Linked DNA regions of Homo sapiens: all the other regions are linked to region 2. Evidence: fine-mapped QTL for protein levels in blood plasma. Region 2 holds a variant in brackets. A gene starts in each other region. All regions are shown on their reverse strands. Region 1 holds the start of CCL26 (C-C motif chemokine ligand 26). Region 2 holds the start of ACKR1 (atypical chemokine receptor 1 (Duffy blood group)). Region 3 holds the start of CCL8 (C-C motif chemokine ligand 8). Region 4 holds the start of CCL7 (C-C motif chemokine ligand 7). Region 5 holds the start of CXCL6 (C-X-C motif chemokine ligand 6). Region 6 holds the start of CCL13 (C-C motif chemokine ligand 13). Region 7 holds the start of CCL2 (C-C motif chemokine ligand 2).

Evidence for each region. PIP is the posterior inclusion probability: the model's chance that the variant is causal. The UK Biobank Pharma Proteomics Project read protein levels with antibody pairs (Olink). The fine-mapping took linkage between variants from a reference panel, not from the people measured, so its PIPs are less certain.
Region 1: CCL26 starts here. The variant in region 2 is fine-mapped to the plasma level of the CCL26 protein (UK Biobank, PIP above 0.99).
Region 3: it holds the start of CCL8, and the variant in region 2 is fine-mapped to the plasma level of the CCL8 protein (UK Biobank, PIP above 0.99).
Region 4: CCL7 starts here. The variant in region 2 is fine-mapped to the plasma level of the CCL7 protein (UK Biobank, PIP above 0.99).
Region 5: CXCL6 starts here. The variant in region 2 is fine-mapped to the plasma level of the CXCL6 protein (UK Biobank, PIP above 0.99).
Region 6: it holds the start of CCL13, and the variant in region 2 is fine-mapped to the plasma level of the CCL13 protein (UK Biobank, PIP above 0.99).
Region 7: it holds the start of CCL2, and the variant in region 2 is fine-mapped to the plasma level of the CCL2 protein (UK Biobank, PIP above 0.99).

The regions. Positions count from the first base shown.
Region 1 is chr7:75,769,868-75,773,996 of GRCh38, reverse strand. It overlaps CCL26 (C-C motif chemokine ligand 26), which reads left to right and starts at 1,786. Exons shown (of 3, transcript NM_001371938.1): 1 at 1,786-1,893; 2 at 1,994-2,108. The coding sequence starts at 1,821. RefSeq lists a silencer at 972-1,266.
Region 2 is chr1:159,203,922-159,208,070 of GRCh38, reverse strand. ACKR1 (atypical chemokine receptor 1 (Duffy blood group)) reads right to left here and starts at 3,196. Exons shown (of 2, transcript NM_002036.4): 1 at 3,091-3,196; 2 at 1,571-2,610. The coding sequence starts at 3,111. The coding sequence ends at 1,621. The variant C/T (reference allele first, on the strand shown) is at 2,507.
Region 3 is chr17:34,317,134-34,321,133 of GRCh38, reverse strand. CCL8 (C-C motif chemokine ligand 8) reads right to left here and starts at 1,699. Exons shown (of 3, transcript NM_005623.3): 1 at 1,557-1,699; 2 at 748-865; 3 at 1-332. The coding sequence starts at 1,632. The coding sequence ends at 227.
Region 4 is chr17:34,268,677-34,272,676 of GRCh38, reverse strand. CCL7 (C-C motif chemokine ligand 7) reads right to left here and starts at 2,456. Exons shown (of 3, transcript NM_006273.4): 1 at 2,311-2,456; 2 at 1,414-1,531; 3 at 435-980. The coding sequence starts at 2,386. The coding sequence ends at 875.
Region 5 is chr4:73,834,349-73,838,348 of GRCh38, reverse strand. It overlaps CXCL6 (C-X-C motif chemokine ligand 6), which reads right to left and starts at 1,671. Exons shown (of 4, transcript NM_002993.4): 1 at 1,490-1,671; 2 at 1,253-1,385; 3 at 1,063-1,146; 4 at 1-726. The coding sequence starts at 1,598. The coding sequence ends at 708. RefSeq lists a silencer at 1,403-1,697.
Region 6 is chr17:34,354,489-34,358,637 of GRCh38, reverse strand. CCL13 (C-C motif chemokine ligand 13) reads right to left here and starts at 2,158. Exons shown (of 3, transcript NM_005408.3): 1 at 2,036-2,158; 2 at 1,049-1,163; 3 at 28-612. The coding sequence starts at 2,111. The coding sequence ends at 507.
Region 7 is chr17:34,253,043-34,257,042 of GRCh38, reverse strand. CCL2 (C-C motif chemokine ligand 2) reads right to left here and starts at 1,758. Exons shown (of 3, transcript NM_002982.4): 1 at 1,618-1,758; 2 at 704-821; 3 at 1-321. The coding sequence starts at 1,693. The coding sequence ends at 216. RefSeq lists enhancers at 1,087-2,061, 2,062-3,036, 3,980-4,000.

The DNA of each region.
Region 1 (4,129 bases), not on the chromosome of region 2:
GCTCTCCCCTATAATCCCAGTGCTTTGGGAGGCTGGAGTAAGCAGATCGCCTTGAAGCCAGGAGTTTGAGACCAGCCTGGCAACCTTTGGGCTCTACAAATTTCTTTTTTTTTGTGACAGAGTTTTGCTCTTTTTTCTTAGGCTGGAGTGCAATGGCACGATCTTGGCTCACTGCAACCTCTGCCCCCCAGGTTCAAGTGACTCTCCTGCCTCAGCCTCCCAAGTTGCTCGGATTACAAGCATGAGCCACCACAAAATTAGCCCGGCTAATTTTTGTATTTTTAGTAGAGACGGGGTTTCACCATGTTCGCCAGGCTGATCTCAACCTCCTGACCTCAGACGATCCCCCTGCCTCTGCCTTCCAAAGTGCTGGGATTACAGGCGTGAGCCACTGTGACTGGCCCCACACACACACACAAAATAATAATAATAATTGACCAGGTATGGCCAGACGTGGTGGCTCACTGTAATCCCAACATTTTTGAAGGCCAAGGTGAGACAGTCACTTGAGCCAAGAGTTTAAGACCAACCTGGGCCACATAGAGAGACCTCATCTCTATTTTTTTTTCTTTTTTGAGACAGTCTTGGTCTGTCGCCCAGGCTGGAGTGCAATGGCGGGATCTCGGCTCACTGTAACCTCTGCCTCCTGCATTCAAGCGATTCTCCTGCCTCAGCCTCCCTAGTAGCTGGGATTACAGGTGCCCGCCACCGTGCCTGGCTAATTTTTTTATTTCTAGTGGGGACGGGGTTTCACCATGTTGACCAGGCCCTCTCTCTCACTATATATATATATTATTTGTTGTTGTTTGTTTGTTTTGTTTTGTTTTAAGCCTCGGGTGATTGTGATGATCTGTCAGGTTTGGGATCTGTTAGATCTCTCAAATGCCCCCAGCCAGCCCTGGCCCTACAGGTGTGGCCCCAAGAAGATGGGCTGGCACCTGCCTGGACCCTGTTTTTAAATATCCATTGTCGAGGTTGGGCTACTCTATGATCACATCTTGAGACCATCCAGAGCTCCACACAGAGATAAGCAATGCTTAGAAAGGAAACAAAACTTTGCCCAAGAGCCAGAAACCTATCTTCAACAACCAATTGTGCTATAAAGTAACTTAGTTCAGTTCACTGGAATATTACTTAATTTCCTCTGCTTTTTCTTTTTAAACAAGAAAGTGTTGACTCAGCCAACAGCACTGGGAACCAGACTCCCTGGGGCCTGCCTGCCCCTGCTCTTCTCCCAAATTCTCTTCTTTTTTTGTCCCTGTTGATGGAATTCAATAAAGGGATCTCTACCATCTGTCACTTGTTTTTTTTTGTTGTTTGTTTGTTTGTTTTTTTTTTTTTTGGCAGAGTCTCACTCTGTCGCCCAGGCTGCAGTGCAGTGGTGCCATCTCAGCTCACTGCAACCTCCACCTCCCAGGTTCAAGTGATTCTCCTGCCTCACCCTCAGGAGTAGCTGGGATTACAGTTGCCTGCCACCATGCCCGGCCAATTTTTGTGTTTTTAGTAGAGACAGGGTTTCTCCATGTTGGCCAGGCTGATCTTGAACTCCTGACCTCAAGGGATCCGCCCACCTCGGTCTCCCAGAGTGCTGTGATCACAGGCATGAGCCACCACGCCCAGTGCCAGATTATCTTTCTTCACTGTCTAATTTCATTCCTATGAGTATTAGTTTACTTTTCCTTTGTTGGGTCAAAAGTGCTGCTTCTGTTCCCAACCACAGAATTCTCTGGAATTGTTTTCAGGGCCGTCTCAGTCTCATAAAAGGGGATCAGGCAGGAGGAGTTTGGGAGAAACCTGAGAAGGGCCTGATTTGCAGCATCATGATGGGCCTCTCCTTGGCCTCTGCTGTGCTCCTGGCCTCCCTCCTGAGTCTCCACCTTGGAACTGCCACACGTACGTAGCTGGCCCATTCCCCTCCTGGGGTTCCTTCCCGGACCGCCTGGGAGTGGATGGAAATGAGTATCTCCAAACCCTTCCTCTCCCTGATTTTTAGGTGGGAGTGACATATCCAAGACCTGCTGCTTCCAATACAGCCACAAGCCCCTTCCCTGGACCTGGGTGCGAAGCTATGAATTCACCAGTAACAGCTGCTCCCAGCGGGCTGTGATGTGAGTATTTCTCGGACGTACTTTCTGGGGCCCCATCAGTCATGCAACAGGATGGGTGCTGGGCAGACCCCCAGGATGAGCCTTGGGATGGGAACCTGGAAACCCCACCTCTGCACACTAACAAGTGTGACTCTGAGCTTCAGGTAGAACCTGACTTTTTTTTTCTCTTTTTGAGACGGAGTTTCTTTCTTGTTGCCCAGGCTAGAGTGCAATGGCACGATCTTGGCTCACTGCAACCTCCCCCTCCCGGGTTCAAGCAATTTTCCTGCCTCAGCCTCCCAAGTAGCTGGAATTACAGGCACATGCCACCATGCTCAGCTAATTTTTGTGTTATTAGTAGAATTTCACCATGGTTGGCCAGGCTGGTCTTAAACTTCTGAGCTCATGTGATTTGCCCGCCTCAGCCTCCCAAAATGCTGGGATTACAAGTGTGAGTCACTGGACCCAGCCAATCCCCACTTTTAATAAACTCACAGTGAAGTAAGAGCTCAGGAATCATCAGCTATGATGAATAACCTTGAAAATGTGGCTAACAATTAAATGACATGTTGAGTGCAGGGTTCCTTTCTGGGGTGATGAAAATATCCTAAAATTGATTGTGGTGATGGTTGCATAATCTATGACTATACTAAAAACCATTGAATTATAATTATAGCCTTTAAATTGGTGGAGTTGTACATGGTGGGGAGGTTTAGACGATCGCTTGAGCCCAGGAGTTCAAGGCTGCAGTGAGGTATGATCGCACCACTGCACTCCAGCCTGGGTAACACAGAGAGACTTCATCCCTAACAAAAGAGAAAAAAAAGAGTGAATTACAGTTATCCCCCAGTAACCACAGGGGATTGGTGCCAGGATTTTGGCATACAATTTCCCCTGAATTTATGCAGCTTTTGCATCACCGAGTTTTGTATTTTCTATCCTCCTTTGGTTGGCAAAAGGCTGCCTATGAGTGGGCCCACAGAGTTCAAATCCGTGTTGTTCAAGAGTCAACTGTATGTGCCGTGTGAATTATATCCCAACAAAGCTGTTCTATTACAATGAAAGAATCAGCCAGGTGAGGTGGCGCAGGCCTGTAAGCCCAGTTACTCCGGAGGCTGAGGCAGGAGAATCGCTTGAACCCGGGAGGCGGAGTTTGCAGGAGTAGAGATCGCGCCACTGCACTCCAGCCTGGGTGACAAGAGAGAAACTGTTTCAAAAAAAATAAAATAGGCCGGGCGTGGTGGCTCACGCCTGTAATCCCAGCACTTTGGGAGGCTGAGGTGGGCAGATCTCCTGAGGTTGGGAGTTCGAGACCAGCCTGACCAACGTGGAGAAACCCTGTCTCTACTAAAAATACAAAATTAGCTGGACGTGGTGGCGCATGCCTGTAATCCCAGCTACTTGGGAGGCTGAGGCGGAAGAATCACTTGAACCTGGGAGGCAGAGGTTGTGGTGAGCCGAGATCGCGCCATTGCACTCCAGCCTGGGCAACAAGAGTGAAACTCCGTCTCAAAAAAAATAAAAAATAAAACAAAATAAAGGCTAGGCGTGGTGGCTCACACCTGTTATCCCAGCACTTTGGGAGGCCAACACAGGCGGATCACCTGAGGTCAGGAGTTCGAGACCACCCTGGCCAACATGGCAAAACCTTGTCTCTATTAAAAACACAGAAATTCGCTGGGTGTGCTGATGCGTGCCTATAATCCCAGCTACTTGGGAGTCTGAGGCAGGAGCATCACTTGAACCTGGGAAATGGAGGTTGCAATGAGCTGAGATCATGCCATTGCACTCCAATGTGGGCAACAGAGTGAGAGTTCGTCTCAAAAAAAAAAAAAAAAAATTAAGTGTCCTGGTGCAGGTTACATGCTGCAGGCTAGAACTGGTGGAAAACGGTAAATGGTACCTGGTAGAGGTGGGTCTGGAGGCATAGTTTCCAGTGGAAATCAAGATAGGAAAGAGGAGGGAGACAAGGCCCAGGAGAAGAGGGGACAGGGACAGAGAGCAACAAGTTTGTGGCAAGGCCAGAAGACTAGTGAGAGAGC
Region 2 (4,149 bases):
AATGTCTCCCGCGTCTCAATCGGTCCCTAAATCCCGCCTTTCAATTGAGGACGAACCAATCAGGAGCTAACCTGGTGGTTGCTAAGAGACAGGAGGTGGGAGATTTAGAGGCCTTGTCGTGGCACCCACCCAGGAAAATTCCCTAAGCCTTTTGCACCCTCCTGCCTAAGCTATTCTAACTCATCTCTGCACCTCTCCCGCACTCGCCTACTATTCCCAAGCCCAGAGAGTCAAGCAGAAACATTTTAGTAAAGAAACCAGGTATAGCATATCTTTGGAAAATGGTAAGATGGTAATTGGGTTCAAACTGATAGAACGTATCTGCTCAAGTTTCCCCAGCCTTTAGTTGGGTTAGAGGTAGGAACTAACTGTTTTGTAGCCTCTTGGGTAGAGGGTGAATTTGCTCTTGGTGGTAAAAGCTGTGCCCCTGATGAGGAGGGGTTTCTGTCCTTCCAGCCATCTAAACTTGGGTAGGTAGAGACTGAGAAAAATCTCAAAGGTCATGATTAAGCAGCCAGAGAATCAGGGGTTGGGAAAAAGGTGCCCAGGGGATTGGGGTATTGTGTGGAAGGTGGAAGGAAAGATGTATGTGGGAAATAAAGGTTTATTTCAAAAGCTGAGATTCTGAAAGGGAAATTCGGGGAATTCCAAGCAGAAGATGAATCAAATCAGGGCCTCCCCCTTCAAGTTTCTCCACCCTTCACAACTTCTTGATCTTTTCTTCCCTCCACACATCCTACACAGAAAAGACTAGGCTTAAAAACCAGGGTAAAGAAAACTCATTTGGGTAAGGAGTGAGTCATAAATCCCGATTCTATATCCTGTGAACAGGGATGAGTGCAGAATTGAGTGGGGGTTTGGGTCCTGAGAAAAGTCAGTGCACACGCACAGGTGTGCGCAGTTCAGGTGCTGACAGAGATGCAAGCTCATGGGTGGACATATGTTTTTACATGCATACATCTAACATAAAGGTAGATTCTAACAGATCGAGAAACAGATGTGTACACACACACACACACACACACGCACGCACATTCAGGTCATGCTGAGGAACCTGGGAGAGATGACTCCCAGGAAGTGGCTTTTTAAATTACCTTGATATGTTCCCTGAACTGAGTAACATCCCCTGGGATGCTTCTTTCACCTTCCCCACCACTGTCCTAATCACTAAACAAAGCCAGAGAGGAGACAGAAGACAGAGGCTGGGCAGGTTGGACAGGGGGAGGTGGTATTGCTCTGGGCTTTGTCATCACTCTTCACTGTTTATCTCTCAGTTTGAGTTCCTATTCCATTTGCTTCCCAGAACAGCTTTTTTTCCAGCTAAGCCATCCCTTCTGTTTTTTTTGGTTTAATGACTCCCCTCATGCTCTGGTTCCTCTTCTCTTCTCCCTTGAGATGGCCGTGACCCCACACCTCAAGAGAACATCTGTGTACCCTGAGGGTATTTATTCATCATTCACCTTCTTCCCAAGCCAGCTATAGAAGCAGACACTGGCAAGAAAGTCTGACATAAAAATGTCTCTCTCTCCATTCTCCTTCTTCTCCCCAGACAAAATAAGAAACCACCCGCTTCACAAAGGCAGTGTAGACTTTAATTCAGGTTGACAGGTGGGAAGAGAACTAGGATTTGCTTCCAAGGGTGTCCAGATGAGAAGACCATCCTTCAGGGAGGGGCAGAGAGGGCAAGAGGGTGCGGGTGGCCTGGTGGCAGAATAGGGCGAGGAGCAGGGGCGTAGCCACACAGTGCAAAATTGCCAGGGCTTCTGCCAGGTTCAGCAGCAGGTCCAGAGCCTGCTGGGCCAGACATGTTGACAACAGCAACAGCTTGGACCTCACCAGGAAATCCAGTCCTAGAACCACCCCATGAGGCCACCAGAAAATAAACCAGGCCCACAGGATATTCATCCAGGGGCCTGGCCCCATACCCAATGCCTTCTTCAGCCCCTTGGCTCCAAACAAACCCAATGGCAACAAGACAAAGATGGCAAGACAGGCTACAGTGTGTGTGGCCTGCAAAGCCTTCAGCTCCGTGCTGTATATCAGGGTGCAGAGTCCACCAGAAGCACCACTGGCCAGGGTGACAGGCAGTGTCAGTAGGGCAGCCACTCCCCAAATTCCCACAGTGAGCCCCAGGGTGAGGCCTGGGACCTGGCCTGCACCCAGTCTGTGGCCCAGGGAGGCATGGCACCCTAGCAGCAAAGCCTGGGCAAAGGCTGAGCCATACCAGACACAGTAGCCCAGGCTACACAGGGCAGAGCTGCGAGTGCTACCTAGCCCTGGGGCCAAGACGGGCACCACAATGCTGAAGAGGGCACTGCCCACAGCCAGCTGTGCCAGGACAGGCCAGCCAGGGCAGAGCTGCCAGCGGAAGAGAGGTCTGAAAAGCATGAAGAGGACAGTGCTGCTAGCTAGGATACCCAGGACACTGGTGAGGATGAAGAAGGGCAGTGCAGAGTCATCCAGCAGGTTACAGGAGTGGCAGGGGGCAGCTGCTTCCAGGTTGGCA[C/T]CATAGTCTCCATCTGGGAAGGAATCATTCACACCATAGGAAGAATTCCATACATCTTCGAAGTCCAGCTGACTTGAGTTCTCAGTTGAGGGGGAGAGCTCCGCCTGGAGGACATACCCAGAGGAGGCCATCAGAGTTACACCGGAAGAGTCTCCTGGGAATTGAGGGGCAGGTGGGAGGGGAGGACAGAGAGGAAGGTCGGGTGGGAGAACAAGGTCTCTGCAGGAGTCAGATGCAGTGCGGACAGTGGAAAAGGACAAAGCAGGGAGCCTGAAGAGCCGGAGCAGGAACAGTCCTGGGGAAGCCAGGGCAGCTGGGGCTGGAGGAGCAGTGCAAGGTCAGAAGGAAAAGGCACCAAGAGACCAGGATGGAACTGACTCAAAGGCAAAGGGAGGGACACAAGAGGGAGCTAGGAGGCTAGCATAGGAAGGAGAGAAGGAAAAAGACTTTGAAGGAAGAGGAAAAAAGCAGGAAGGGAGAAAAGATGAGGAGGAAAAGGAAGAGATATAAAGACTGAGGGGCAAACAGCAGGGGAAATGAGGGGCATAGGGATAAGGGACTCTGGGGCCTGGCCCCATACTCACCCTGTGCAGACAGTTCCCCATGGCACCGTTTGGTTCAGGCCCGCAGACAGAAGGGCTGGGACGGCTGTCAGCGCCTGTGCTTCCAAGATAAGAGCCAAGGACTAATGAGGGCCATCAGGTTCTGGGCAGGGACAGGGGGCATCAGGAAGCCTTACCCCACGCCCACTGCCTGCACAAGCCTCAGGCCTATGGGGGTCACTGGCCTTGGGTCTTCCTGTTTTGAGGTTGGATTTGGCTGGTTGGGACTACACTCAGGAAAAAGGTGGGGACCAGAAAGTGGGCATTTTACCGAAGTGGAAAGGGAGATTGAGAAAACAGGGGGCTTTCCAGCAAGTAGAGATTTTACCGAAGTGGAAAGGGAGATTGAGAAAACAGGGGGCTTTCCAGCAAGGAGAGATTCTTCAAGCACAAGGAAGGAAGAGAGGGGGGCTGGGTGACTTGTGAGGCAGAGATAAGGGAGGTGCTGGGAAATTGGAGTGGAAGGGCGGCTGACTCTCACTGCTCCTCCATCCCCTTGAACTGGATCCAAGGAAAGGCAGTTCAAAAGCCATGTGTTTGGGAGAAAGGTGGTGGTGGTCAACTCTGTCCCAACTGAGGGGTGTGTGCACGTGGGCGTGAGCTCTTTGTGTGTACTGAACTCTGTGTACGTTTGCTGTGTATCATTGTGCACATATCTGTATGTGAGGGGCTTGGCGGGTGTCTGGGTGTGTCTAGCTATCTCTAGGTCTGGGTGTTTCAGTGTGAGAGTGGGAGGGTTGGGGTGGCTGTCGAGGCTGCATAATGAAGCCATTTCAGGGAGCTATTGGGTGTTTGCCTAGCCACCTATGGGCTCAGTGCATGCCTCTTGCATATGAAGTGGAATACATGGTCTGACAAGTTAAAGTAGGCTCTAGGGGACAATGGGACAGCATATTTTAAAATGGGACCATTGCCCACAGGGTGATTTCTATTCATATTTCTACTGGGGGACATAAAGTCTCTGGAACTGTTTCATTGGCCAGGCATCTTAGCAATATGTAAAGTTTCTCACTGAGGGGCAGAGCTGGCCAGCAGAGAGAA
Region 3 (4,000 bases), not on the chromosome of region 2:
AGGATTTTGCATTTTACATTCACTAGGATGTATGACAGATAGAGTTAAAACATCAACAACTTAAATATAATTAAATACTTTTTAAGAAATATTATGCTTTAAATTATTTAAAAATAATCTCTTTGTGGATGTTATAATAAAATAATGTCACACTGCACCTGGGGGAGGTTGGGGAAAATAAATAAGCTTTTCTTCAAGCTCTGACTCTCAGTCCATGTATGAAGGCTCATGGCTTCAGATTTTGAAATATTTGGTCCAGATGCTTCATGGAATCCCTGACCCATCTCTCCTTGGGGTCAGCACAGACCTCCTTGCCCCGTTTGGTCTTGAAGCTGTGGGGGAGAGAGGGCACAATTAGATGGAAGACTTTGAAGATCCTGCACAGGACTGTGGGCCATTGGTCCCTAGAACTGATCAGCCCTTGGTCCTTAGGTGAAGGACCCGGACCCGGGAGAGGAGGGAGGGGAAGAGTGGGAGGAAGAAGCTCCAGAAGGAAGCTCTGCTCTTGCTGTCCAGGTGAAACCCTCCAGGGTCCTGGCTACAGATATTGGGTTAGTTTCACCAAGCCCCTAGAAGGGAATCCTAGAGCAGTTATGGACTCCTTCTCATGGACTGAGTTTCTCTATGGGGTAGAGGGGCCCTTTGGATAGAAGTTATATGCATCCGACTCATATGGACATGAATCTTGACTTCTCTATGTTGTCCATCAGAACTTTTGAATGGGGGTGCCAGGCACTGTCCACTCACATCACAGCTTCCTTGGGACATTGGATGTTGGTGATTCTTGTGTAGCTCTCCAGCCTCTGGATAGGAATTTTCCTATTGATCACGTTAAAGCAGCAGGTGATTGGAATGGAAACTGAATCTGAAAGAAATTTTGCAAAGAATGAGACATTTAGGACCCACCGTAAGTGTGCATTTGTAAGGAAAAGAAGAGAAGGAAGGAGAAGACCAAGAAGTCACCATCCCAAGTTCAGTGTCTTAGTCCAGATCCCAGAGATAAAATGTTGCCTGTGAGTCTCTTTCCTCTATTGAACTCTGCGGCCCGTCATTGTTGACTGGGTTTGGAAACATTTTGAGTAACAAGCTAGTCCTTGTCTACTAACCCAAAACTTCTGACACTGGGAACATAAGTTCCAATACCTTGCTTCCCAGTCTTTCATCCTCATGGGCTTTAGAGTTAGCCTATGCCATACGCTGAGATTCCTCTGGGTCCTCATCCTCTTTACACAGCCACTGTTCTGGAAGGTACACTGAACCATAACCAAAATTTGAAGCTTCAGGCAATAGTTTCTCCCTCTCCACTACGGCCTGAAATGTCCTTTACACCCACAGTGAGAAACAGTTCTTCGTTCTGGATTATTTCCCCAAACAATGGGAGGGTTGTTGCTGTAGCGGCTCCACTGTCTCCTCCCAAAACTGGGGTCAGGAAAGATCAAGGGAACCAGCCTCAGTGACCTGAGCCTTTAGTTCTGGTTTTGTTCCTAATGAGCTGTGACATAATGGCTCTTCTTAATTCCTCTTTTGGTCTCCCCTTAAAAAGGGAGAGGTCTTACCTGGCTGAGCAAGTCCCTGAGGGCTGAAAGTGGCTGCCATGAGCAGCAGGCACAGAAGCGCTGCAGAAACCTTCATCTTGGAGGGCAAGGGTGTGAGCTTCAGCATGAGAGGTGAAGGTTTCTGGGTTGTTCTCAACCTCTCTGCTCCTCGGTGGCTCTGCCTGCCTTTTATAGGGAGCAGAGAGCCTGGGCATGGTCACAATCAAGGAAGAATGAAGTAAGACCTTCCTTGAATATGCTGAGTAAGCACCAGATCCTGGGATAATTTCCAGATAACAAAACAAGGAAGTTGTGAGTTTCTATCTTTTGCTTAGGCTCTGTGGAGCAGAGGCTGAAGGGTATGGGATTGTGCTCAGCAAAGTGACCTCACTGAACTATTAAGGGCTCTGATTTCCTTGAAATGGAAAATTGTCTATAAGAAAGGAAGAATGGAAGCTGACGTCATAGTGGAAGAGAGCCAAGGGCCTACCCCTCTGTGGGTAACAGGAGGCCAGGGATGGGCCCTAAGGCTTTGCTGGTGCTCTCCATCACACTAGAGTCACTTGCAGTTCTAAGCCAGGCAAGCTCCTTTAGAACCCCAGCCACAGAACGTTGGCAGAATGACAGAATCCTGGAACTAAGTCTTAATGCCCCAGAATCTTACTGTTGCAGAGGGTAAGAACTAGACAGCACATGCTGGTCTTGTAGCATGGTGGTTTCCAAACATTTTATTTAGATGCTCAAGTTTCTTTCCAAATGAAATTATATGGAGAAGTCCAATATGTCATGGAGATTCAGGTGGAATGGGTCCGTCTGCAGAAGGCCTTCCAACTCTCTTGGTTCACACACAGTGGGGCTGTGGGCGGGGCGTGGCAAGAAGGAACCAGGTTTGCAAAAGACTGACCTCATCTACTCCCCCTGCAGGCCTGATCTATCCATCATTACAATATCATATAGAAGTTTTCCTGCTCTAAGAATTCACTGTATTCTTCTATTCATCCTTTTTCCTCTCCACAAATCTCTGGCTACCACTGATCTTTTTACTATCTCTGTGAGCTTGTCTTTTCCCAAGTATCATATGCATAGTTGGAATCATATAGTAGGCAGCCTTTTCAGACTGGCTTCTTTCACTAAGCAATATGCATTTAAGGTTTCTCCGTGCCTTGTTGTGGTTTGATAGCTAATTACTTCCTTTGTTCTTTATTCATTTATTATTTTTATTGTGGTAAAAATGCACATACCATCTTAACCATTTTTAAGTGCATAGTTTAGTGGCATTAAGAACATTCACACTGTTGTGCAACAGTCTCAATAACTCTTTTCATCTGTAAACAGAAATTCTATACCTATTGATCTCCAGTTTCCCCTCCCCCAAGCCCCTGGCAACCACCATTTCTACTTACTGTTTCTGATTTTGACTGCTCTAACTACCTCATGTGAGTGAAATCATATAGTATTTTTCTTTTGTGACTGGCTTATGTCATTTAGCGTAAGGATCTCAGGGTTCATCTATGTGGCAGCATATGATATGCTACATATCCTTAAGGCTGAGTAATATTCCCTTGTATGTATATAGTACATTTTATGTATCCATTCATCTGTTGAGGGCTCTCTATTCTGTTCCATTGATCCATTTGTCTATTCTTTCACCAATACCACACCGTCTTGATTACTGTTTCCTAATAGTAAATCTTGAAGTTGGGTAATGTTAGTCCTCTGACTATTCTTTTTCAGTACTGTGTTAGCTATTCTAGATCTTTAACCTTTCCATATAAACATTAAAATCAGTCTATCACATCCAAAAAGAACCTGCTGGGATTTGGACTGGGATTGTGTTGAAGGTACAGATCAAGTTGGGAAGAACTGACATGCTGACAACATTAACTCCACCTATCCATACATGTGGAATATCTCTTCATTTATTTAGATCGTCTTTAATCTTTCATCAGAAGTTTGTAGTTTCCCTCATATATATTGTACATCTTAGACTAATTTCTAAACACTTCATTTTATTGGTGTTAATGTAAATAGTATTGTGTATTAATTTCAAATTCTAGTTGCTCATTGCTGATATACAGGAAGTTATTGAATTTTATCTATTAGCCTTGTATCCTGTAGCTAAAATTGCTTATTAGTGGCATGACTTTTTTTTGTTGCTGATTCTCTGTAATTTTCTACACAGACAATCATGTCTTCTGCAAATAAATTCAGTTTTATTTATTCTTTCTAATCTGTATATATTTTTATTTTCTTGTCTTGTGCTGTTGTGTTGGCTAGGCCTTCCAGTATTATGTTGAATTGGAGTGGTGAGAAGAAACATCCTTGCCTTATACTCAATCTTAGGAGAAAAATATCTAGTTTCTCACCATTAAGTATGATATTTGCTGTAGGTCTTTTTTAATGCACTCTATAAAGCTGAGGAAGTATCCCTCTATTCCTAGTTTGCTGAGAGTTTTTTTTTTTAA
Region 4 (4,000 bases), not on the chromosome of region 2:
CCAAATCATCTGTTGGTCTCCTACTTGATTTTTTAATGAAAGTGACATTTGTATTTACTAGACTAGAGGATTGATTAGAAGGGGGAAAACCAGCCAGTCACAAGGCTGATAGAATAGAAGAGGGGACAGGCTTTTGGGTAGAGCGTGGGATGGTGAGAAAAAGAATGAGTTTGGGAAAAAAGAAAGGTATTTGAACAAGTGGCTGAAGCAGATGTCAGATCTGGAGCTGGGGGGTGGGTTCATCTGGCCCCAGCCTGTGGCTGCCTCTCCCTAACATGCAGGTGAGCCTGGCCTGGGGGAAAGCCCAGAGTCCATTACGCGCTCATTTCTCCACAATGTGAGCCCAACCTCTGCAACCACGCCCTTCACCTTGTCACCCTGTTACCCCCACCAGCTTTATTACTTTATCCTTTTAAAAAACCATGAATGGCAGCTGTTATACAAAAATCTATTTTATGTGAAAATTTGGGAGTCATACATATGCAAATATGTAATTATATAATAACAATATGCTTCCATAGGGACATCATATCTTAACAATTAAAGCAAATCTTTGCACTGATTCTTGCAAGGACTTATACAATACCCCCATGAGGTAGAGAAGGGAGGAGCATCCCACAGTTTTTACAGCACTGAGATGACATATACATCCAAGGCTTTATGTTCAAAACCCACCAAAATCCATGGAAGATTAAATTAAAATATTAATAACTTTTAAAATCTACTAAGAAAAACCATGATTCACATTATTACATAAAGCTCATATTCCTTAGAATTAGATTAAAATAATCTCAGAACCACTCTGAGAAAGGACAGGGTATACAAATTATTTGTTTCTCAAGTCATGGCTTGTTTTCAGTTCAGTCATGAATGTTCAAAGCTTTGGAGTTTGGGTTTTCTTGTCCAGGTGCTTCATAAAGTCCTGGACCCACTTCTGTGTGGGGTCAGCACAGATCTCCTTGTCCAGTTTGGTCTTGAAGCTGTGGAGCAGAAAGGAGACAGTCAGATGGAACACCTTGAGGGTTCAGCCTGGGAGTGTGACCAAGTCTATGGGAAATCTGTCTAGCCCATCAGCCTAGCTGATGGGGATGCCTCAGGGATGAAGGAAGAAGATAAAACAAAGGAAGGGGACTCAGAGAAGCAGCTCTTTTTGGTAGCCCAAGTGAATCTCTCTTGGTTCCAGGATGAAGGAACGAACTGAGATGTAAAATGATAGCTGGAAAGGGAGCTGAGAGTGAGAAGCCACTTTCTTTACTTGTATTGTTTCTCACTGGCAAATGTCTGGGATAAGGTTAGAGATGCTGTATGCATCACAGTATTTGACTCCAACTCATTCTGATACTAGTCCTATTCCCTGCCCAGGGAAGAACCTAGGACTGAGGTGTGAGGGGTGGGTGGTCATCGTCCACATACATTACAGCTTCCCGGGGACAGTGGCTACTGGTGGTCCTTCTGTAGCTCTCCAGCCTCTGCTTAGGGATTTTCTTATTGATAAATCTGTAGCAGCAGGTAGTTGAAGTATTAATCCCAACTGCAATGAAACAACAAGAAGAAAAGTCCATTGAGGGTGTGTCCTGGGTCTTTCTGTTTGTAAAACAGGGAATGGTAAGAAGAAGGAATCAGAAAGAAAGGAAGAGGTGGAGGGAAAAGCTGCCCATCCCAAACCCAATGTCTCTGCCCTTTGAGGCATTTCATAAACTCCCTTTCACTTTTATGGACTGTGAAATAGGGATGCACCATCACCAGTTGAAAGACGGAAGAGGAATTGATGGCTACTCTGGGCATTGCTAGGAGGGGCTAATATAATAATCCAATTCCTTAGAGCAAGGGTACCCCAACTATGGATCCCCTTTTAGGCTCTGAGCATTCAATGCTTGGTCATGAGTTTCCCTGATACGTACCACCTCTGCAGAGCTGCTGTTTCTGGAAGCTGGGCTTCCACAGACCAGATTCTGGGTCTCCCGGTATCTGGAAACAGCCCGCACACCCATCCCCAGAAGCCTCCTGTCTTTGATCACCCTGATCCCAAATTCTGCTGGAAGCAGCTGGAGTGGTAACTGCACTGAGGGTGTTCCCAGAGCTGGAATCCTAGAAGGAGCTGGATTTGGGGTTCACAGCTGGAATTCTAGTTCAGGCTCTACCCAACAGCAGCTGTGTGGTTGGGCTCACCCCTTATCCTTTTTCTAAGTTACCTTATCTTGGAAAAGTAGCTGTTAAAGTGAGACTGTGGGTATCAGGTCTTCTTGATTGGTCCAGGATAACCCAGAGAGGGGGCAATGTGCTTCAAGGAGAAGGAGAGAGGGACCTTACCTGGCTGAGCAAGCCCCTGGGGGCTGAAAGCAGCTGCTGTGAGCAGCAGACACAGAAGTGCTGCAGAGGCTTTCATGTTGGAGGGTGAGGGCATGGGCTTCCACATGAGAATTGGAGGTTTCTGGTTTGGTCTCAGCCCCTCTGCTCCTCTGGAAGCTCTGTCTCTGCCTTTTATAGGAAGCAGAGAGGATGAATCATAGAATGGAGTAATAAATCTATGGAGTAATAAATCTGCTGAGCCAGTGCACTTCAGTGGGAGGATAGGAAATGACAGTATGAGTCGAGGCTAGCCTGTTTTTCAGCTAAGACCAGGAGTGGTAGGTGAGGTAGGGTCTATGTAGAGGAAGACCACAGTATGTAATCTATGGCTATTATCAAGAGACCAGTTTCTCTGAAATGAGACACATTCTATAGAAAAAGGAAGGAATCAGGGATACCAAAGTCAAAGATATGTAAGGGATATTCCCCTTTTCCCTTTGGAGTGGTATCCCTAGGACACGAGTCCACAAAGAGACATTCAAACTTTGGTTCAACTCTACAAAGGACTCAAAGATTCTTCACTGTCTTAAATCCTGGTGGCTTTCTAAAACCCAGAGAAAAGTAAAATAATAGAACATTAGCAGAAAAATAAAATTCAATATTCTTAGAATAATAGTACCTAAAATTGTAGTGTCTATTTCAATAATCTATTGCTGCATAGCAATCTATCTGAAAACAGTGACTTAAAACAATAACAATCTTCTGGGTTTTTTTGCTCTTGACTATATCACAAGGCCTTCATTCAGTGTCTGGGGTCTGGGCTGGGAGGACTTCAACAGCCAGCAGTTGGACCAGATGGAATTTCTCAGGTGTCTCTCTCTCTCTCTGTATGTGTGTGTGTGTGTGTGTGTGTGTGTGTGTGTGTGTGATCTTTCCAGTGGTCCCTCCACATGGCTAGATATTTTGCATGATGGCTTAAGGATCCCAGGTGCAAGGTTAGGGAACATAGTCATACCTCTTAATGGGAAGAGTGTAAAATAATTTGAGGATATGTTTTAAAACCACTATTTGTTTTATAGGCTATCGGAACTGCACAGCATATCAAGATCTTAAAATACTGTGTTTCTAAAACATCTAATGAGCTGTGAAAATATTTTTCCAAGTAAAAGAATATAGGGAAGGCAAATTTATCGACAAAATCAGAGACCTTCAGTTTGAATCAGAGACAAGAGACTTCTTGTCATTCTTCCCACACACATATCTCAGAAATACAAAGAATAAATTTTGGAAACCACTAATCTAGCTCCTCATCTCACATACAACTAGCTCCTCATCTCACATACACATTACAAAATCACCAACTAATCGCCTTCCATATCAGTGAAAAGGGGTTTGATGAGAGACCATGGGTGGGGTCCTCATGCCTATAACTGGGCCATGGATCATGGACATGGAATGCAAAAAAGGAAAATTATTCAATGGGGGAATTGAGCATTATACAACTTTGAATATTAATTTGGGAGCAATGCAAGGCTTTGATTCTGGTTTTAGCTTTATGTCGTTTTATCTTACCCCTATGACTTTGCTCAGGCTACTCATTCTCTCGATTATCTCTTTTTCAAATTGTTTTTACTCCCAGCTCCAGAAATTGGTGAAGAGTTGGCCTACTTTCTATCTCCTTATTTATGGAGTCTTCCCAGCTCACTCTAAT
Region 5 (4,000 bases), not on the chromosome of region 2:
TAGCATACAAAATCAAAGTTTAATGAGTAAATCATGACATTATGCCATACTAAGAAGACATCAAACGTCTAAAACCATAGGAAGAGAATATATTAGCCCTTACAGAACTTAAATTTTTAGAAATTCTGAATAAGGAAATATATTCTGCACAGATAACGGTATGACACACCCAGTGTTCTAATACAGTACAACTTAAATAGCATCCTAGGGTAAAGAGTAACATATTCCCCAAGAAACAGAACTAAAATATTTCCTATTTTATGAGAAGAGTGAGTAAGAACAACAGGATACCTCCCTCAACAGCACACTAATAAAACATTATTTCCATACGAAATCCACAGCCTTTTCGGTAAGACTTTAAGGAATGTATGATAGAAATACAATAGTTATCTTCAATTCAATATTCATTGAAAGACTAATAACCAGTGATTCTTTGCTCACAATATGGTCAATTGCCAAAGGGTTCAATAACTTATCAGGTAAAATAACAGTAAATAGTGGAAATACTATATTAGTACTTCATTAGCTGAGCTGTAAACTTCAGGGAGAAGCGTAGGCTTTCCCCCACACTCTTCAAAGTAGGGAATCCATGTAGAAAATGGAAAAAAACCAACCCTTCCTTCTTATTCTTACTGGGTCCAGGGATCTCCAGAAAACTGCTCCGCTGAAGACTGGGCAATTTTATGATGCATGGTCTTTTTTGTTACTCAGTTTTTCTTGTTTCCACTGTTGAGAAAAGAGTTATATTAGTATAACCAATTCCCACACTCTTGTATGCTACATTTGGTTTTCAAAAGCGTTTGGTGGGGGAAAAAAATCAATAAAAGCAAAGAGCAGACAAAAAATAGATGTCAGTAATGAGCTCTGTGTAATTGTTCAGGCATGTAAGATTGGTGATAAAGGTTTACCCAGAACATTCCAGAAAAAAAGTTTCCTTATTCTTCTTAACAACCTTATAATTCTAAGCATAGTCTAAATCCTACAGAGAGAATAAGGACATTGTGAAGTATATGCTTTCCATAGAAGATATTAAAACACCACAAAGATCAAAGGGACAAATACCTGTCCAAAATTTTCTGGATGACTTTCTTTAGAAAAGGGGCTTCCGGGTCCAGACAAACTTGCTTCCCGTTCTTCAGGGAGGCTCTGAAGTAAAGAAAAAGAGGATGCACCCATGAGCCACAAAGGTTGACGACCCAGGCTGGAGGACTTGCCTAAGTCACAGTGGACACAGCAACACAGGAGAACTTACACCACTTCCACCTTGGAGCACTGCGGGCCTGCGGGGAACACCTGCAGTTTACCAATCGTTTTGGGGTTTACTCTCAGCGTAACGCGTAAACAAGTGCAACGCAGCTCTGTCAGCACAGCAGAGACAGGACCAGCTGGGGAAGAAAGACATTTTTATAGGGCAGGTTGCTGGGAGAGTTCCCTGGAACGCAGCGGCCCCGCAGAGGCTGGGATGCACCCCAGTGCCAGGAGCTCTCACCGCTGGCGAGGGGCCCCGGCGGCGTCAGCAGGAGCAGCAGCGCGAGCAGCGCGCACAAGGAGCCCGAAGGACCCGGGACACGGGCCGCGCGGCTGGACGGGAGGCTCATAGTGGTCAAGAGAGGGTTCGCGGGTTCCTGAGCTGGGTGGAGGCGCGGAGACTGGAGGATACAGAGCACTTTGGTTTCCTCGTGCCTTCTGCACTCCCTTTATCTGCATTCATCCCTCCCGACTGGCAGGAAACTCAAGCTTTGGGATGCTGGGGAAATTCCCTGAACTCAGGGGGCAGTGTGGAAAGAAGGGGTTGGTGGAGGGGGGCGGGAGGATGGGAATTGGTGGGGTGGGTGGCTGGGAGGAGCTGCCTGCTCCCTTAAGGGGGAGGACATTTTAGCCCCGCCCCGCGGTGGAGGGAGCTGTGGCTCCAGCCAAAATAGAGCAGCGATTCAGCAGGGTCTCATCCCCTGGGCTTGAGGGGTTAGCGAGGCTGGCTTCTCTGAGGCACGCAGCTGTCTGGGAGATGCTCCTCCTCTCCAATGGCCAGGACAATTAGGCAGGAGAAGGAAATAAAGGGTATTCAATTAGGAAAAGAGGAAGTCAAATTGTCCCTATTTGCAAATTACATAATTGTATATCTAGAAAACCCCATGGTCTCAGCCCAAAATCTCCTTAAGCTGATAAGCAACTTCAGCAAAGTCTCAGGATACAAAATCAATGCACAAAAATCACAAGCATTCTTATACACCAATAACAAACAAACAGAGACATGGTCTCAGCCCAAAATCTCCTTAAGCTGATAAGCAACTTCAGCAAAGTCTCAGGATACAAAATCAATGCACAAAAATCACAAGCATTCTTATACACCAATAACAAACAAACAGAGAGCCAAATCATGAGTGAACTCCCATTCACAATTGCTTCAAAGAGAATAAAATACCTAGGAATCCAACTTACAAGGGACATGAAGGACCTCTTCAAGGAGAACTACAAACCACTGCTCAATGAAATAAAAGAGGATACAAACAAATGGAAGAATATTCCATGCTCATGGGTAGGAAAAATCAATATCGTGAATATGGCCATACTGCCCAAGGTAACTTATAGATTCAATACCATCCCCATCAAGCTACCAATGACTTTCTTCACAGAATTGGAAAAAACTACTTGAAAGTTCATATGGAACCAAAAAAGAGCCCGCATGGCCAAGTCAATCCTAAGCCAAAAGAACCAAGCTGGAGGCATCACGCTACCTGACTTCAAACTATACTACAAGGCTACAGTAACCAAAACAGCATGGTACTGGTACCAAAACAGAGATATAGATCAATGGAACAGAACAGAGCCCTCAGAAATAATGCCGCATATCTACAACTATCTGATCTTTGACAAACCTGAGAAAAACAAGCAATAGGGAAAGGATTCCCTATTTAATAAATGGTGCTGGGAAAACTGGCTAGCCATATGTAGAAAGCTGAAACTGGATCCCTTCCTTACACCTTATACAAAAATTAATTCAAGATGGATTAAAGACTTAAACGTTAGACCTGAAACCATAAAAACCCTAGAAGAAAACCTAGGCATTACCCATTCAGGACATAGGCATGGGCAAGGTCTTCATGTATAAAACACCAAAAGCAATGGCAACAAAAGCCAAAATTGACAAATGGGATCTAATTAAACTCAAGAGCTTCTGCACAGCAAAAGAAACTACCATCAGAGTGAACAGGCAACCTACAAAATGGGAGAAAATTTTCGCGACCTACTCATCTGACAAAGGGCTAATATCCAGAACCTACAATGAACTCAAACAAATTTACAACAAAAAAACAAACAACCCCATCAAAAAGTGGATGAAGGACATGAACAGACACTTCTCAAGACATTTATGCAGCCAAAAAACACATGAAACAATGCTCACCATCACTGGCCATCAGAGAAATGCAAATCAAAACCACAATGAGATACCATCTCACACCAGTTAGAATGGCAATCATTAAAAAGTCAGGAAACAACAGGTGCTGGAGAGGATGTGGAGAAATGGGAACACTTTTACACTGTTGGTGGGACTGTAAACTAGTTCAACCAGTGTGGAAGTCAGTGTGGCGATTCCTCAGGGATCTAGAACTACAAATACCATTTGACCCAGCCGTCCCATTACTGGGTATATACCCAAAGGACTATAAATCATGCTGCTATAAAGACACATGCACACGAATGTTTATTGCAGCACTATTCACAATAGCAAAGACTTGGAACCAACCCAAATGTCCAACAATGATAGACTGGATTAAGAAAATGTGGCACATATACACCATGGAATACTATGCAGCCATAAAAAAGGATGAGTTCATGTCCTTTGTAGGGACGTGGATGAAATTGGAAATCATCATTCTCAGTAAACTATCGCAAGGACAAAAAACCAAACACCGCATGTTCTCACTCATAGGTGGGAATTGAACAAGGAGAACACATGGACACAGGAAGGGGAACATCACACTCTGGGGACTGTTGTGGG
Region 6 (4,149 bases), not on the chromosome of region 2:
GTTACTCCTGAAGAAAACACCACTGTGTAGGAGATTTTAAATAAAATGTATTTTCTGCAAAATGTCAGCAGTCCTACTATTGCATTCATCTTTCCACAATAACATATTTAGCAACACCTCACATTCACAAAGAGCTCTCCTTCCTACATTGCAGCATCCCTTCATGTCCATGACTCCCACAGGCATGCTCTCAACCCCTGGGAACCGAATACAAACCCACTGCCAGCAGCTCATAGTGGAAGGGAAGGGGGCTTAGAGACAGCAACCTACTTGCTCAAGGCCTTGCTTTAGAAAAGATCAGCAATACTCAAATAAACTCCAAACCAGCAACAAGTCAAATAATAGCCAATATTACTTAACACATAGTACATTTTGAATCACAAAACCGAATGCATCCTATTTGAAAATTATGGTAGAAGTATTCCAAAGCATAGAAGAGGAGGCCAGAGGAGAATGGAAAAGTCATTTCACGTACTCCAGCTTGATTTCAGTAGGGGTAGCAGAGTTCAAGTCTTCAGGGTGTGAGCTTTCCGGCCCAGGTGTTTCATATAATTCTGGACCCACTTCTCCTTTGGGTCAGCACAGATCTCCTTGCCCAGTTTGGTTCTGAAGCTGTGGAGGAAGGAGATCTGGCACAGTTAGATGGAACCCTTTGAGGGTTTACCCAGGAGATGACACACTGGGTTCTAAACCTGCCTGGTCCACCTACTACAGGTGAAGGGGCACCCCTCCAGGACAGGAAGTAGGAGGTGTGTGGACAGAAGGGGTCTCTGGAGGCAGCCACTGCTCTTGCTGCCCCTGGGAAACTGATCCTGGCATCTGCTAAAGGGTGTGGGCTGGTGCCCATCCAGGAAACAAGGTGTGGGAAATTATAGGTCCTCTTTGGACCTGTTGTGCAGCCAAAATTGGAGGATTTGCATCACACAGTCTGGCTAGATCTCATCCTAAGATCTCAAGTCAGTCTGACGTCTGTCTCCTGGGGCAGAACTTTGGATTGGGGAATGTGGGAGTGGGGAGGAGCCAGGTGAGCAGGGATTTTTCTACCCACATGACAGCCTTCTGGGGACACCTGCTGGTGGTGATCACATAGCTCTTCAGCCTCTGCAAGGAGATCTTCTTACTGCTAAATGTGAAGCAGCAAGTAGATGGGACGTTGAGTGCATCTAGAAATAGTTACAAAGAAAAAGACTTTGAGGATGTGTTAGGCTTTTCTCAGCTTGAATACAGCAGGGAGCATCTGTATGGGATGCAAAGCAAAGAGGAAGAAATAGATCTTACTCACCCCCAAGCCCAGCACTCCCACCCTAGACCCTGAGGTGAGGTGGGACCTGTGACATGTGCCTCAGGATCTCAAAGGCTCAGCTGCATGGTGGAGACATGTCACAGCCATCTAGGGGAGGCCACGGGCAAGGCCAGTGGGAAAGGTCCTGGGTGTGGTCCCAGATCTGCAGAGTTTGGGACGATCAGATGAGGTCAAAGAAAAGGCCCTAAATCTGGAGTCAGAAGCTTAGGTTTCATTCTTGCTCTGCAATAACCTGGAGGTGGATGGCTAGGGTCCCTTCTGCCTCCAACATGGGCTTCAGCTTTCTATCTTTAAAATTAGATGTTAAAGTGAACCTCTGAGGAGCCTTACTATTCTGGTGGGCTTAGAAGTGGGGCACTTGGCTGGGCCTGGTGGCTCACGCCTGTAATCCCAGCACTTTGGGAGGCCGAGACGGGAGGATCACTTGAGGTCAAGAGTTTGAGACCAGCCTGGCCAACATAGTGAAACCCCTTCTCTACTAAAAATACAAAAATTAGCTGCACGTGATGGCGGGTGCCTGTAATCACAGCTACTCAGAAGGCTGAGGCAAGAGAATCGCTTGAACCTGGGAGGTGAAGGTTGCAATGAGCCAAGATCGCACCCCTGCACTTCAGCCTGGGCAACATAATGAGACTCAATCTAAAAAAAAAGTGGAGGAGCACTCGGGCTTAGGTCTTCCTTGAATAGAGAAACAGAGGGAAAGAGAGGGAGAGTCGAAGGGAGGTGACTTACCTGGCTGAGCAAGTCCCTGGGGGTTGAAAGCTGCTGTCATGAGCAGCAGGCACAGAAGCACTGCAGAGACTTTCATGTTGAAGGTTAAGAGTTGGAGATTTCACAATGTTTCTTTGCCTCTCTGCTCCTCTGGCTGTTCCGCCGGCCTTTTATAGGGAGTGGAGAAGCTTGGAACTCTCAGAGGACCTTGGCCTGAGCAGGGCGTTGACCAAGTCATGATGAAGGGGGATCCTGAATCTGCTGAGCTGGAGCTGGGCACCAAAGACTTTTCTAGGAAATGCAAGAGGGAAGCTGAGGGCTGAAACAGCATGGCATGGCTTCCTTCTGGCTGTTCAGGCCACAAGGAGCCAGAGAGGAGAAAGGGACACAGACGCGCCCCAGCCATTCACCATGGGAAGCCATAAAGGAGCTGTTTTCTTCTTACTTTCTCCAACAGGAAAGAGAAAAACAATGAAAATTAACTCCTGTAGAGAAAGAGTGCTGTGCTAAGGACTCTGTTCACGTTATATATTTAGTTTGAGGAGGTACATACCATTATTATCATGCCCATTTCATAGAAGAGGAAACGGATGCAGAGAGATTAAATAACTTGACCAAAATCTTATGGGAAATGAGAGGGAAAGCTAGAAGAGAAAGCTGGTCTGCTTATATTTTATCACCAAGGCAGTTTCAACTTTTGTTTAGCAGCAGAAGTCTTTTTCCAAGTCAACTTTTATGTGGAAGTCTAATATCTGAAACAGATTAAGTCAGATTTCTGATGACAGGGGCTCCTTACATTACATATTGTGTCCCCTTCTGCCCCTCAGGCCCAGAGGGACATGGTTCAAACACCTCTGATTGATGCAGGCCCCGTGTTTCCAGGAAGGACCATTGGGTTTCTAGAGCTGTTGATGGGAGGGCTGGGGTGGCCCTCAGAGCAAAGAAGTGAGGTGTTTGGCCCATTCCTGGGCTCCTCCTGCGAGGGGCACATATCTGGGAGCTGGGAGGTGGGGAGGGAATGGCTTAAAATGGTTGAACATGTCCCTTTCCCACTCATCCCTAGCTCCAAGACTTGGCACAGTTTTTGTGCCTTCCTGGAATACTCATCCCTCTGCATTCCACTATAGCAAAATAAGCCCAGTGAAAGTAAAGGGAAGAAATAAAGAGCTAGGATTAGAGAAATAGGAAACAGTAAATATTAGAAAGGATAGATGAAGCCCAAAGCTGGTTCTGTAGCCTATAATTAAGCTAAAACTCTCCTGAACTGAAAATGAAAAAAAAAAGAAAAAAGGGGCTGAGGCGGGGGGATCACTTGAGGTCAAGAGTTCTAGAGCAGCCTGGACAACATGGTAAAACCCTGTCTTTACTAAAAAAAATACAAAAATTACCCAGGCATGGTGGCACATGCCTGTAATCCCAGCTACTTGGGAGGCTGAGGCAGGAGAATTGCTTGAACCTGGGAGGCCGAGGTTACAGTGAGCCAAGATTGCACCACTGCACCCCAGTCTGAGTGACAGAGTAGGACTCTGTCCCAGAAAAAAAAAAAAAGAAAAGAAAAAAGGAAAAAGGTACATATAACCAGTTGCAGAGCCTGCAGACACCAAAAAGAAAATGATAAGAACCTTATGCCAAAAATTTAGTTTAGAGGAAATGGATGAATTTCTTAAAAATCTAACTGACCAGGGTGCACAAATAAATAAAAAATAGAAAGTCATTCTAAAGCTATTAAAGAAATGGAATCAGGAATTGAAAATCTTCCCACAAAACATTCTCTGGGCTCAAAGGGCACAAACAGCTAATTCCTCCAAGCACTGAAGGAAGTGGTCATTTCAATCTTGTGCAATCTCTTCCAGAGAATATCAAAAGATTGTACACCACTCAATTCATTTTGAGACCTACCTAACTTTGACACAAAAATGTGTCAAGACTCACCTGAGAAAAGGATATTATAAGCTTGTCCCTTCAGACACACATTCCATTCTTTTCCATTCTATTCTCTGCCCTAGGAAGCCAATCTTGGTGGGTTACATCAGTGAGGTTGCTGACCTTCTAGCTTCTGACTGGGTTTAGGCACAAGGGAGCTTCTGAGGACATTAGAGCAGGGAGAAGAGTTAAGTTGAGGTTCTTCTCCTCTG
Region 7 (4,000 bases), not on the chromosome of region 2:
AAAAGCAATTTCCCCAAGTCTCTGTATCTAAAAAACACTAGTACCATGAAAGATAAACTTAAAACATCAATAACTTAAATAAGAATTAACATTACTTAAGGCATAATGTTTCACATCAACAAACAAAATTCATTATAATAAAATAAAACAGGGTGTCTGGGGAAAGCTAGGGGAAAATAAGTTAGCTGCAGATTCTTGGGTTGTGGAGTGAGTGTTCAAGTCTTCGGAGTTTGGGTTTGCTTGTCCAGGTGGTCCATGGAATCCTGAACCCACTTCTGCTTGGGGTCAGCACAGATCTCCTTGGCCACAATGGTCTTGAAGCTGTGGGGAGGGAGGACAGAGTTAGATGAAGTTCCTTTGCAGTTTTGGTCTAGAAGTGCAGCCCATTCTGCACCAAAGGGCTGCCATGGGAGCTAGAGGAGGAACGCAGGTGGAAGGAGGGAACCCAGGGCAAACTGCTCCTATAGGTGTCCAGGTGGAGCCATCCTGACTTCAAGCTAAAGAAATTGGGGTGTTCTGAATAGGCACCCAGGTGGAGAGTGATGTTGGGGTTCACTTTTTCCCTTGGTGCCTCAGTTTTCCCATTGGGAACCTTTGTACATTAAGTTAAATAGTGCACTCTCTGACTCTAGGTTTATGAGGCTTGTCCCTTGCTCCACAAGGAAGAACTTCAGGCCAGGGAAGGTTGGTGTGCTGAACTCACATCACAGCTTCTTTGGGACACTTGCTGCTGGTGATTCTTCTATAGCTCGCGAGCCTCTGCACTGAGATCTTCCTATTGGTGAAGTTATAACAGCAGGTGACTGGGGCATTGATTGCATCTGGAAAATAAACCACAAAGAAAAAGCATTTTAGGATGAACTGGATTATTCTGATCTTAAGAGCAGAAAAGAGTCATGAGGAAAAAGCAAAAGGCAGGCAGGAGAAGACAAAGAGCTCATTAAATCCCAGTGCTTCTGCCTATACCTCAGAGCTAGAATGTGATCTTTGACCCAATGACTCAGTTTCCTATGCTGTAAAATGGGTATATAACATTGATAATGGACAGAGAGAAGGAGGAGCTGTTAAAGCTAGATAATGCCTACAAGTGTCATTAAGACGGACCAATAATCCAGATGATCAGCACCAGGGAAGATCAGCTGGGGAGCCCCACTATGAGCCTCCTTTTAGACTCTGAATAGGCTATGCCTGGTCATGAGTTTCCCTGATACTCATTACCTCTGCAGAGTCACCGTCTCTGGAAGCTAAGGTGAATGAAGCACAGACCAGATTCTGGGTCTCCAGCGTGTCTGGAAACAGCCTACACACCCACCCTCTCTTTGATTACCCTGATCCCCAAACTCTGCTGGAAGCAGCTGGGGGAGTAACTGCGCTGAGTGTGTTCCCAGAGCTGGAATCCTGGAAGGAGCTGGATTTGGGGTTCACAGCTGGAATTCTAGTTCAGGCTCTGCCGAGCAGCAGCTGTGTGGTTGGGCTCACCCCTTGTCCTTTTCTGAGTCACCTTATCTTGGAAAAGTAGCGTTAAAGCAAGACTGTGGGTACCACGTCTGCTTGGATGGTCCATGATAACTCAGAGAGAAGACAATGTGGTTCAAGGAGAAGAAGAGGGGGCCTTACCTGGCTGAGCGAGCCCTTGGGGAATGAAGGTGGCTGCTATGAGCAGCAGGCACAGAAGGGCGGCAGAGACTTTCATGCTGGAGGCGAGAGTGCGAGCTTCAGTTTGAGAATTGGATGTTTCTGGGTTAGTCTCAGCCTCTCGGTTCCTCTGGCTGCTGTCTCTGCCTCTTATTGAAAGCGGGCAGAGGGAGAGAGGGCGGAGTCAAGCAGGAGGAGGGATCTTCCATGAGTGATAAGTGGGCTGTTAAATCTGCTGAGCAAATGCAGCATCCTGTGGATTTCCAGGAAGTAGGAAAGGGAAGCAGGGGGTCAGGACGAGACACTTTTTCCATTCACTGCTGAGACCAAATGAGCAAATGGGGAGGATGGGGTGCCATTAAGCCCAGACTGACCACAGATGTGAACTAAGAGGGTTATTTTTAAGGATTCTGCTTTCTCTGAAGCGAAAACTGCAGAAAAGGAAGGAAGCGAGGAAACTAGATGAAAGCATGTCAGGCTCGCTGCCAGCTTACCTTCAGGCCACATTCCAAGGGGCCTCCCAGCCAGGAAGGAGCTCTCAAGCTTTGGCCGGCTCCCTGACAATGCATTAAATCCATTTGCTCATTCAAATGCAGAATAGTAGCATCATAGAAGCCTAGCAGAACTGTAGGATTGTGTAAACATTGAACTGAATTCTAAGAGTTCTAGGGTTTCAGACTTGGACAAAGGCATAGACAGCATGTAGTGCTGCAGAAGAAATGCCAGTGTCATACTCACAGAGTGCTTACTCTGCCAGGAATATTCTCAGACCTTTACAAATATTAACTCTGTAAATTCCCCAACTTTATCTAGTAGGGATTGCTAATTTTCATGTTATAGATCAGGCAACTGAGGCACAGAAGGGTTAAATAGCCTGCTCAAGGTCCCCTCGAGCACAGAACCCAGGCAGCCCTGTCCCCAGTGGGCTGCCACCTCTCTGACATACTGCTGGAAGGAAACGTGTACAAGTCCTCCAACTAGTTGCCTGCTTGGGTCCTCTCTCTGTCCTCAGCATCTTCCAAATGGGCAGACAGCTAAAGGAGAATCTAGAAACATTCCTCATGGCTAAGTCATTATGAGTTAGGAGGCTGTTGCTAGCATAGCAGGCAGCAGTGGACAAGAAGTTCATCCCTGGTTATGGCAGCTATTCTCCTGGCTTCCTTCTTAATTTCCAAGGGACATGAGTAAGCAGTGGAGGAGTATTTCGGGAATTGGAAAGCCTGACTTCATTCCTCAGTTGTGCCTTAGATTTCCTCAGAAACTACAGAAGCACACTGATAAAAACCCAAAGACCTTAGAATTCATTTCAGTGAACTGTTGTCTCTTACAAATATGATAGGAGTACTTGAGGCATGTTAATGGCTGGGCTGAGTTTAAAATTCTGATCTCTCGATTCTCCTAGCCCACTGCCTCCTCCTTCTGAGCCTTGCGGTGCCCTTGCCCAATGGGCATACAAAGACTAGTGACTTCTTTCATAAAGGGTCACTGAGGCAATGTCTATAAATGCATGGGGTTTCTTGAAAGAAAACACTTTTCACTACACTTGTAAAAAGAAACGGGTTGTATTCAACAAATGACTGTTTTATTTCTAGTAAGTGGTCAGTAATGGCATTGTTGAGTGCATTCAGGGAGTCAGGTATGGTGCTGACATACTTTCCAGCGCTGCCTGCCCAGTCCTCCAACCAACCCAGCTTTCGTTAGGTTAAAACTGAAGTTATTTGTCCAGTAACTCAGACAGAATAGTAGATGTGCTGAGACTCCCACCCAGGATGTTTCCATTCCAGAATCTCTTCTTCCTGGGACTAGACTTGATGTCTCATGATGGATATTGGTTTCCTGGAGAATCCCAGAGCAGAGACTCTATGGAGTGGCCATTTCAGACTCTGGTGGAATTACAAAAAGCAGGATGAAGAGAGAACAAATCAACTCGAGCCCTGCTTTGCTTGTGCCTCTTGAGGAGCCTTATTCTTGTTCTGCCTGAATCTCACTAGTTACTCCTTTTCTCCCCAACCAGTGTTGAAACTTCTCTGTGTTTGTCTCAGTCCTCTGCTCATGCCTCAATCCATTCTTATCCAATGAATAAAATGTTTCCAGGACTAGAGACTGTGCAACTTTGTGTAGGAATTTCTTCCTAGGCCATCTCACCTCATCTTCCAAGAAGTTTTCCTCATATCAGGGGAAACCTCTCTCTAATCAGTTAGTGCATCCTTTACCATGAACTTGGTGGACCGCATTCAATTTCCCTTTATAATCCAGTCATGCTTCGGGTTTTCTCTAGGTTAACAAGCTGAAAGATGCTGAGATCTTTAAATAAGTCTCTCCTGGCTTAGTCATATCAGCATCACTCATAGAATCCCAGAATCAA